Regions from separate parts of the Homo sapiens genome. Here region 2 is linked to region 1. Evidence: fine-mapped expression QTL. A gene starts in region 1. The other region holds a variant in brackets. All regions are shown on one strand. Distances are from middle to middle.

What was found. PIP is the estimated chance that this variant, and not a neighbour inherited with it, causes the effect.
Region 2: its variant is fine-mapped to the expression of FGD2 in whole blood (TOPMed, PIP 0.98).

What each region holds. Positions count from the first base shown.
Region 1 is chr6:37,002,807-37,008,182 of GRCh38, reverse strand. FGD2 (FYVE, RhoGEF and PH domain containing 2) reads right to left here and starts at 2,528. Exons shown (of 16, transcript NM_173558.4): 1 at 2,298-2,528. The coding sequence starts at 2,365. RefSeq lists enhancers at 393-562, 2,383-2,512 and a silencer at 2,768-2,930.
Region 2 is chr6:37,027,696-37,033,071 of GRCh38, reverse strand. It overlaps FGD2 (FYVE, RhoGEF and PH domain containing 2), which reads right to left. Exons shown (of 16, transcript NM_173558.4): 16 at 4,003-5,124. The coding sequence ends at 4,909. Among named protein-coding and RNA genes, the nearest start is that of FGD2, 25 kb to the right of the region's middle. RefSeq lists an enhancer at 3,350-3,429. The variant A/G (reference allele first, on the strand shown) is at 2,576.

The DNA.
Region 1 (5,376 bases):
ACAGAACAGGGCAGGCATCCTTATGAGAAAGACAGGCCAGGAAATGGAAGGCCAAACAAATACGAAATCTCCAAAACTCCGTGAGAAAGGTTTTCATTACCCATATTTTGCACTCAAGGAAACTGAGGTCTGGACAGGATGAGTAACATGCGGCTCGGAAGTGGCAGAGGTGGGATTCAAATCAGGCGACTGCTTCCTGAGCCTTCACTCTAACCTGCCCCTCCCCATTTGAGTAAAGGAGAAACAGGTCCGCGGAGTCAAAGTGACTTGCCCCAAGTGACACAATTGGGTTTGTGGCAGCGAAAGCATTGGGACCTAGTGCTGTGTGGCTACTCCCAGGCTCTCCCACCCCTCCCTGGCACCCCAGTCCCTGGTTTCTCAGCCCATGGGTCTGCAGCTCATGGGCGTAGCTGGTTCTCAGGCTTTCTGTTCTACATTTGGTTTCAGGTTCTGCATTTCTGTTCTAGGGCCCCTGGCCAGCTTCTGTTTCCTCTTTGCCCCTCAGTTTCAGATCAGCTGAGGTGCTGGAGACCTCATAAGGAAGCCCAGGCCAAGGCAGTTGGTATGGGTCCCCTCACTCAGTAAGGAGTGGCTCTCACCCTCTTGATGCCTGCTGGGACCTAACTCCCGTCTAAGGGCTGCCCACTCCTGCCAGGGTTATTGCCTGGGCAGAGCACAGCATGCTGAGGGGCTCCACCCAGGTGTGCCTAGTCCACGTCAAGCATGTTGAGTGAGGTGGTACCATCCACCCACACCCAAGGGGGTGGTGGGCCAGGAAGGCGGCACCCAAGAGCTGTCTTTGGTGCTGAACAGGACGAGCTTGGCAAAGATCCCGGGAGAGGCAGGGGAGAATCACCCAGCTCAGGAAGTTGAAGACTTCTAGGTCTACATCTATGCCATCTCCACCCTGAAGCCTACAGGAAACATTGCCTGCCATGAGTGCCCTCAATACAGCATCCGGGCCATTCCTAGGACATCTACTGTCTATGACCTTGCATCATAGTTATTCGATGAGCTCAGCATCCAAATACTGAAACCCTTCTTCATCCTCTACAGTTCCTGTAGGATGCTGTGCTGTGCCACCCATGTCCCTCCTTCAGGAATGAGGCCTCCCCACACCATCCCCACCAGCTACTGGTAGTACTGGGGGCTGCCGGGTAATTTATTGGCTGAGTCCCTCTCTGGGAATCACTCTCTGGAAGAGAGAGCTGCCTCACCCAGAGTCTCTTGTCCAGTCCACATGGAGATACAAATACCCAGCCCTCTTCCTCAGCTGGAACAACCGAGAGGCATCCCAGCTCCAGAGCTCCCTGGGACAGGCTGAGGCCTCTGTGGCAGGTGCACTGCAGTTCAGCATCTCCCCCTGCCCGGCCCTGCTTCCCTCACACCCACAGCTGTTGTTCCCAAAAGCTCTCCCTGATAAATCACCTGAGGCAAACCTCTGTCTGAGTCTATTTCCAGAAAACCCTACCTGGGACAGCCCCTAACACAGTCCTGAGCTTAAGAAATGCCTGCAGAATGGATTGATGCCACACATAACACACAACACACACATACACACACGCGCACACACACAAACACACATGCTCCCAGGGCTACCAATGACTCCACGCATCTGGCCCAGCCTTTTCCCTCCAGACAGACGCCCCAGCATTGCCCCAGATACTTAAAGCACTTGGCATCCTCACCTCTCTGTGTCTCCATTTCCTCATCTATAAGACGGGAACAGAAACAGAATCTACCCCTATTAGGCTGTTCGATGACTAAATTAAATAAGTAAGGACATGAACTTAGAGTAGGGAGTACCCCATCAGGATGCTGCCCGTACATCCTGGTTTGCCTCATACGGTCCCAGCTTTACCTGTAATGCCTCCCCCACAACCACCACATTTTATTTGGCATTTACTTTCAGTTTCAATTGTGTGCTGAATGATAAATTATATGGTTATCCTAATCATAGGGCGTAAATTCTTGGTGAGTATCAGCTACCTTTTCTGAGAGGTGCTGGCAGGCACTGGGTGGGGTCCTGTGCCCACACACAGGCTTTGGTCTGCCCATGCTTGCTCGTAACCACACCTGTCTGGACTCTCCCAACACACACTGGCACTCTCACCCCTGCCTGGCTCCTGGTGTCCCACCGACACTCTCCCATGCTCCAAGGAATCCGTGACCGAGGAACGCGGGGCTGCCCCTGCAGGAGGAGGGTCCGGGGCAGGGCCCAGGGAGAGAGCTGCCAGAAAGGCTGGAGGGTGGCTGCCAGCCCACCATGGTGACCCTCCCACCCCAGCTGCCCATACCTGCTATTCTCAAACACAGTGACCAGGTTGGACACAGATGCCAGCTTCTCCTCACTTGCCCCCTTCATCCTGCCGGTTTCCGGGGTGGATCTCAGCTACCCTCGAAGCAGAGAGAGAGGCCTCCAGCCAGCACACTCAGCCACGCTGGCCTGGGACAGATAGGCTAAATCACCCATGAATCTGTTCTGATCTTTCTTGAGGGCTCAGAAGGTCGGCTCTTGGCTTCAGAGTGAAGAAAGAGGAAGTGGTCCCAGAGCCACAGCCCTGCAGGGGAAAGGCCAGCACTCCCGCAGTGGGAGGAGCCTGCTCGGGCCCCACCTCTCCCTCAGGGGGGCTGACCTTTCACACCTGTAGACCCCCATTCCAGAAGCCACCTAAGAGGTGGCAACAGGGCCCAGAGGTAGCTTCTGGAGCCCAGTCTGGGCTGGTGCAGTGGTTTGCACCTCTAATTCCAGTGCTTTGGGAGGCCGAAGCAGGAGGATTGCTTGAGCCCAGGAGTTCAAGACCAACCTGGGCAACATAGTGAGACACCGTCTCTTAAAAAAAAAAAAAAAAAAAAAGGCCACCCGGAGCCAGACCCTTGGCTGGTTTCTTGGCCTAGTGGTTCCAGCCAACCACACTTTCTCCTTCAGAAGGTCCAGTGGCTTTTACTTGGCCTCTTTCCCAGCACCTTCTTTTCTGCATCTGCCCCTGCTCACAGCTGTAAGGAAATAATGTCTTTTTTATTCTTTAGAGACAGAGTGCGGTGGTGGGATCTCGGCTCACTGCACCCTCTGCCTCCCGGTTCAAGCGATTCTCCTGCCTCAGCCTCCTGAGTAGCCGGGATTACAGGGCCTGCCACCACGCCCTGCTAATTATTTGTATTTTTAGTAGAGATGGGGTTTCACCATGTTGCTCAGGCTGGTCTTGAACTCCTGGCCTCAGGTGATCCTCCTGCCTCGGCCTCCCAAAATTCTGGGATTACAGATGTGAGCCACTGTGCCTGGCCAGGAAACAGCATGTTTTATTTAAAATAATCACAAACCTGGTAAGGGTGGCAGGGAGTACTGTGATGTTCCCACCTCCCCACTGGGGTTCTCTCATTTTAGTTGTTGCTGTCATCACCTCATTGCCCCAAGGGAGGGCAGTTTCCTCCCTGAAACTCAGAGGATAATAATAGCTAACATGCACTCTTTTTCATGCTTATGAGTATTTTCTTATTAATCCTATAACAACCTCATGAGGTAGGTACTATTCCTATCCCCACTTTACATAGGAAGAAACAGAATCAGAGAGGTTAAGTAACTTGCCCAAGGTCACCCAGGAAGAATACAAGAGAAGTTGGATTTCCAAAGCAAAAGTGGGTGTCCTACAGTTCCAGCAAAGGTTCGTTGGGAGCCTGGATGACCATGTTCTTGCTGCTCCATCCCCAGGCCTCCCTGATCCCAGGACACTGGGTTGTCTTTGCCTGAGGCCTCCTTTACCACCTGGTCTCCCGGCCCTTACAGAACAAATGGACGCTGCCTCTGTTCCCCTCCTTCAAGCCCCACAGGCCGTTCAGGGCCCTCCCACTGGGCTCTGGTCCCACCAGGGCTCTCCACTGAACCTGGTCTGTGTCCTGGAGTGCAGGGCCTGAGCCTCGGTGCTCTTGGTACGTGAAGTGCCTGGAACAGCTTCACGCTCCAGTAACTGTGAACCCCTGGGGCCTCACATGCCCAACAGCCGCCCTCACCCCAAGCCTCGTCTGAGTGGTTTCTCCCACCAGATGCCGGGCCCCCTGCCCCAAACCCTAAGTCTCACAAACCTCCATTTTTGTTTTTTACTTTTTATTATGGAGAATTTAGAACATATGCAAAACTAGACAGAATCATATAATGCATCCCATGAACCCCTAATCCAGACCATAACAAACCTCAGCTCACAGCCAGTCCCCTGTCCCTGCTGCAGCCACATCGACTCTGCCTTCTCATGTCATTTTGAAGAAAATCCCAGATGTCAGATGACATTACCCATAAACATTTTAGTGTGTATCTAGAAGATGAGAACTCTCTCTCTCTTTTTTTTTTTTTTTGAGACTGAGTCTTACTCTGTCACCCAGGCTGGAGTGCAGTGCTGCAATCTCGGATCACTGCAATCTTCACCCCACTGGGTTCAAGCGATTCTCCTGCCTCAGCCTCCTGAGTAGCTGGGACTACAGGTGTGTGCCACCACACCCAGCTAATTTTTGTATTTTTAGTAGAGACGGAGTTTCACCATGTTGGCCAGGCTGGTCTCGAACTCCCAACCTCAGATGATCCACCTGCCTCGGCCTCCCAAAGTAGTGGGATTACAGGCATGAGCCACCGCGCCCAGCCAAGAACCCTTTAAATAACTAAATATACACACACATAAATGTATATGCATATATACACATGTATAATAGTAATATTGTTTTATATAGACATACATGTTTTACATGTTATATCCATGTGTATATACATATGAAATAATATTACCGTTATCATACCCCAAGAGATATTTAGCAATAATTCCTCAATATAATTAAATATCCAGAAAACATTCCAAGTGCCAATTCCTTATAAATGTTAAATTAAAAAAAAAAATCAGAATCCAAATAAGGTCCACACATTCCCTGAGCTGTCACGTGGATGAATTCACTTTTCATCCACACGTTCCCCTGGTCCTTTCCGTTTTCCCACACAGCATAGTGGAGGGACCCTGGGTTGTTTGTCCTGTAGGTCCCACAGCCAGGACTTAGCCCATTGCAGCGCCATACCCTGGATTTCCTGTCGATGGTGGTTAGGTCTAGAGGCTCGATCAGAATCACCTTTAAATGCCACTTCTTCCCGATGCCCTCCCTGGCCTGGGGGCGCCTCCCTCCCTGGTGTTCCTCTCCTGGATTTCCTCCTCTGCCTCCCACCAGTCTCTCTGCTCACTGGCTGGCTTGCTCCCTCCACGCAGGGCACACCTGAGTACGTGCACTTCCTGGTGGGTCCCCAACCCCAGCGCCCTTCCCGCATACAGTGGGGCCTCAGAAGGCATGTGGAATGGACAGACATCACACCCCAAGCCTCAGAGGATTGTCTTACCCCTCAGCTGC
Region 2 (5,376 bases), 25 kb before region 1:
CTCAGCCTCCCAAAGTGCTGGGATTACAGTTGTGAGCCACCACTCCCAGCCAGTCCCCAGATTTTTATTGAGGACTGGCTGTGGGCCAGGCACTGGGAAACAGCAGTGAACAAAAGACCAACTCTCTGCCCTCCAAAAATGGAGACAGGACACTAATCTAAGAAACATAAAATAGAAGCCGGGTGCGGTGGCTCACGCCTGTAATCCCAGCACTTCGGGAGGCCGAGGCGTGTGGATTACGAGGTCAGGAGATCGAGACCACGGTGAAACCCTGTCTCTACTAAAAATACAAAAAAATTAGCCCAGCGCAGTGGCGGGCGCCTGTAGTCTCAGCTACTCAGGAGGCTGAGGCAGGAGAATGGCATGGACCCGGGAGGCGGAGCTTGCCACTCGCACCACTGCACTCCAGCCTGGGTGACAGAGCGAGACTCCGTCTAAAGAAAAAAAAAAAGAAAGAAAGAAACAAAATAGATAAAACGATTTGTATTATGTGAAGCAGAGTCAGGGGCAGAGTTGCCAGGAGCACTACGTGAGGCAGGTGGACAAGGAAGCCTGTCCGAGGGCCAATGAGGCAGAGACTGGAGAGAAGTGAGGGAGTGCATCGGGCGGATTTCTGGAGGAACAGCATCCAGGCTGAACGAGCAGCAGGTGCAAGAGTCCTGAGGTGGAAGTGTGCTGAGGGAGGGAGGTGAGATGGGGCAAGGGAAGGGGGAACTCTGAGAAGCAGCCAGGGGTCATCCCAAAGGGCCTGGTGGAGCACACGGAGGGAGGCATTAGATGGGCTTCTAACCCCATGCTACTGGAGGGCTGGGAGCTGAAAACTAGCTCAGCTTTCAGATTTGAAAGAATCTGTGTGAAGATGCCAGAGGACAAGTGTGGGAGCAGGAAGGGCAGGTGGGAAGCTCTAGCAATCACCCCCAGAGATATCACAGTGGCCGGGCCAAGTGACAGCATGTGAGGGGTATGAGGTGTGAGGACGGGCTCTGTTCGCAGTATATCCTGAAGGTAGAAGCAACCAGGCTTGCGGCCAGAACAAATGGTCCCAGGAAAGCAGAAACGTCCATGAAGAGCATAGCTAGTAACAACTCCCAGCCAGCGAGCTCCGTCTGTGGGCTAGGAGCTTTCCCTGAATTATCTCACTTGGTTTTCACACCAAATCCTACAAAGAGGCACTGCTTGTCAAGTTACAATGAATACATGGAGGCTCAAGAGGTTGGGTGATATCCCCAAGACCCTATGTCAAGCCTTCAACAGAACTGGAATTTGAGCTTTTCAGGCTATCAAGGGGGTGCCCTTTGCATGATATCAGCTGCCCCTGAGATTTGGAAAGTAGTAGCATATTACCTTGCCAGGCGTGGTGGCTCACACCTGTAATCCCAGCACTTTGGGAGGCCAAGGCAGGTGGGTCACCTGAGGTCAGGAGTTTGAGACCAGCCTGGCCAACATGGTGAAACCCCGTCTCTACTAAAAATACAAAATTAGCTGGGCGTGGTGGTGCATACCTGTAATGTCAGCTACTTGGGAGGCTGAGGCAGGAGAATCGCTTGAACCTGGGAGGCAGAGGTTGCAGTGAGCGGAGATCGTGCCACTGCACTTCAGTCTGGACAACAAGAGCAAAACTCCATCTCAAAAAAAAAAAAAAAAGAAAAGAAAAAGTAGTATAAGTAGTATACTACCTGGCACGTATTAGGTACACATAGTAGGTAATAATCATTTGCAAAATACCTACTTTTTTTTCATTTTGAGACAGGGTCTCAGTCTGTCACCCATGCTGGAGTGCAGTGGTACAATCATAGCTCATTACAGACTCAAACTCCTGGGCTCAAGCGATCCTCCTGCCTTGACCTCCCAAAGTGCTGGGATTACAGATGTGAGCCTGTATGCATTTCTTTGTATCATAAACATTTAAAAGGTCATGAGCCCTATACATTCACCAGAATGTCTAAAATTATTAATTTTAAAAAAACAAACTTCAAACCTGACTATACCAAATGCATGAGCAGGGGAAATGTCATACATTGCTGGTAGGAATGCAGAATGGTACAACCAATATGGAAAACAGCTTGGTAGTTTCTGATAAAGTTAGACACTTACTCAGTGACCCAATTTTAGGTATTTACCTAAGAGAAAAGAAAACGTGCTCACACAAACACTGAACATGAACGTTTATAGTTCATAGGAGTATTATTCATAATTGCCCCAAACTGGAAATAACCCAAGTATACTTAACCTGGTAAACAGATGAACAACTGTGGTATGCCCATGCAATGGAATACTACTCAGCAATGAAAAAGGAATGAACTACTGACATGGAGAACAAAATGGATGAATCTCAAATATATAATGCTGAGTAAAGGAAGCCAGGCTTAAAAAGCTATGGTTCCATTTAAATGACATCTGGAAAAGGCAAAATTATCAGTCAGAAACAGATCAATGGTTACCAGAGGCAAGGAGTAGGGGTGTGGGTTGACTACAAAGGGTGGCATGGGGACACTTATAGGGGGATTGTGGTGGTAGCTGTATGACTGTACTCTTCTGCCAAAACTTAGAAAATATACTAATAAGGGTGGATTTT[A/G]CAGTCTGTAAATTACACCTCAGTAAACCTAACAATGACAGCACAAAGGTTGTGTGCCCTCGCTTCCCTCTCCTGACGGCTACCTCATTTTGCTCCACAGTGAAGCCACTCTCCATACTCCCACTCAGATTAAACCCCTGGAAAAGCTTAGGTATCAGTGCTGCAGAATCGACTCTGCTGTCACCGAGCCAGCTGCCTTCAGCATCATTGGCGAGTTTTAAAATGCTGATGCAGGCCAGGTGCAGTGGCTCATGCCTGTAATCCCAGTACTTTGGGAGGCTGAGATGGGTGGATCACCGGAGTTCAGGAGTTTGAGACCAGCCTGGCCAATATGGTGAAACCCCGTCTCTACTAAAAATACAAAAATTAGCCGGGCATGGTGGCGCACGCCTGTAATCCCAGCTACTTGGAAGGTTGAGGTAGGAGAATCACTTGAACCTGGGAGGCAGAGGTTGCAGTGAGCCAAGATGGCGTCACTGCACTCCAGCCTGGGTGACAGAGTGACAGACTCCATCTCAAAAATAAAAATAAAAATAAAAAATAAATAAAATGCTGATGCTGTCCGGGCATGGTGGCTCATGCCTATAATGCCAACACTTTAGGAGGCCAAGGCAGGAGGATTGCTTGAGCTCAGGAGTTTGAGGTCAGTCTGGGCAATATAGTGAGACCCCATCTCTACAAAAATTTTAAAAATTAGCTGGATGTGGTGGCGTGCACCTGTGCTTCTAGATACTCAGGAGGCTGAGGAAGGAGGATAGCTTAAACCCAGAAGGTCAAGGTTCCAGTGGGCTCTGATCACACCACTGCACTCCAGCCTGGATGACAGAGCAAAACCCTGTCTCAAATAAACAAACAAACACCCTACAGGAGGGAAGTGGCCTCAGGTTGGAGGCAGGCAAAGCTGCTGGGCCTGTGATGGGACAAAAACCTGTGACTCATCCATGCTTCCTCCTTTCAGGGCAGAGCCCAGCAATGGCTGGACCTGCTGAGAGCAGCTGAGGGTGTTCTGGCCACTGCTGGGGCCACTGCATGTGGCCTGCTGACCACTGCCACCCCCTGGTGGTCTCTTATGAAAAAGCATCCTCACCCACCAGCGAGGTGGGGATGAGGGGACAGGGATGCTCCTCCCGTCACCCTTCCTCCCACCATTCACCTTTCTCTCTTGTCTTCCCAGCTTCTTCACTCTCTTTCCCTCTCTTTTGCTTCTCCTCACTCTCCTCCCCTCTCTGCTTGTCTTATTGTTCTGCTCCATGATAGAAAGAGCTTTGACCTTAGTTCACCGGGTTAAAACCTGGCTCTGGCATCTACGAGCTACATGACCAATTGAGCCAATTACTAAACCTCTCTGAGTCGGTGTCTTCATCTGGAAATGGGGATAACTCTGGATGGTAAAATGACATAATCCACATAAAACACCTTGCACAGAGCCTGGTCCAATAGATGTTTATTATTATTATTACTACTATCATGACTGGCACTTGACAGGGGCTCAACCATTGGTTGTGGTAGTTTGCTCTCTTTATTCTTCATCCCAGGTAACCCAGGCTATATATTAGACTCCAGTGGGTACTCTTAAAAAATATGCATGCGCCAGGTATGGTGGCTCACGCCTGTAATCCCAGCACTTTGGGAGGTGGAGGTGGGAGCATCGCTTGAGGCTGGGAGTTTGAGACCAGCCTGAGTAACATGGTGAAATCCCATCTCTACAAAAAATAAAAAAATTAGCTTGGCACAGTGGCACACACCTATAATCCCAGCTACTTGGGAGGCTGAGGCGGGAGGATCACTGGAGCCCGGGAGAGCGAGGCTGTAGTGAGCCATGTTTGTGCACTCCAGCCTGGGAAACAGAGTAAGACTCTGTCTCAAAAAAAAAAAAAAAAAGACCCCATGCCTCCCCCAACTCAGCCCATTTAAATCGGTGGTGGTACTTCAGTACAGGCATTGTTTTTTACATTTTTAAAATTAATTTACTATGTGTTTTTCACCAGTACTCTTTAAAAGCTCCCCAGGAGATACAAATGAAAAACCATACTATGGTGACCACCAGTCCGGGGTTACCTGGGGCTTTCCCAGTTTTAGCACTGGAAGTCCCATGGCCCAGGAGCCCCCTCCCCGCAAGGCAAACTGAGACACTTGGTTGTCCCCTTTCTAGAAAGGAATGGACCCATATTTTCTAATCCCAGATCGGGACACGTGGCCTGGGCGCAGATGGCTGAATCAATTCTCTGAAAGCACCACTTGGGGCAGTGGGTCACTGAGGCCACAGGGTCAGTCTGTGGCAGGAGCTGGGTTCAGGGTGGGGAGAGGTGGGCAGGAGAGCGGCTGGCAGTGGCTCAGTCGGACAGGTCCCCATCGTTGGGCCAGCTGGGGCTCCAGCCACTGGCCGCCCGCTCCATGGCCTTCACCCAGCGGCCCTTCAGCTCCTCCGTCTCGGCCTTGAAGGTGTAGAGCTGGCCTGACTGCTGTAGCTGGAAGACCCGAGGGTCCCCCTGGGGCCCAACAGTCACCTGGTAGCCCAGCAGGGGGATGGAGGTGTGAGCCCTCATGTCCTGGGGGGAGGAGAGAGCAGTGGGCCACTGTCCCCTCTCAGTCCTACTGCCCCAGATAGCCATCGTGAAGGCAACAGCCACGCACGCACAGCTCACACCCTAAACCCCCATGGGTTGGGGGTGGGCTGGTGAAGGCCATCGAGGAAGAGGACAGAAGAACTGGCTGCCTCTGAGGGCAAAGCAGTGGTGACCTAGAGTCAGGGCACAATTCTGAAACCTACCAACCTTGAGACTCCAGGATACCATATCCTC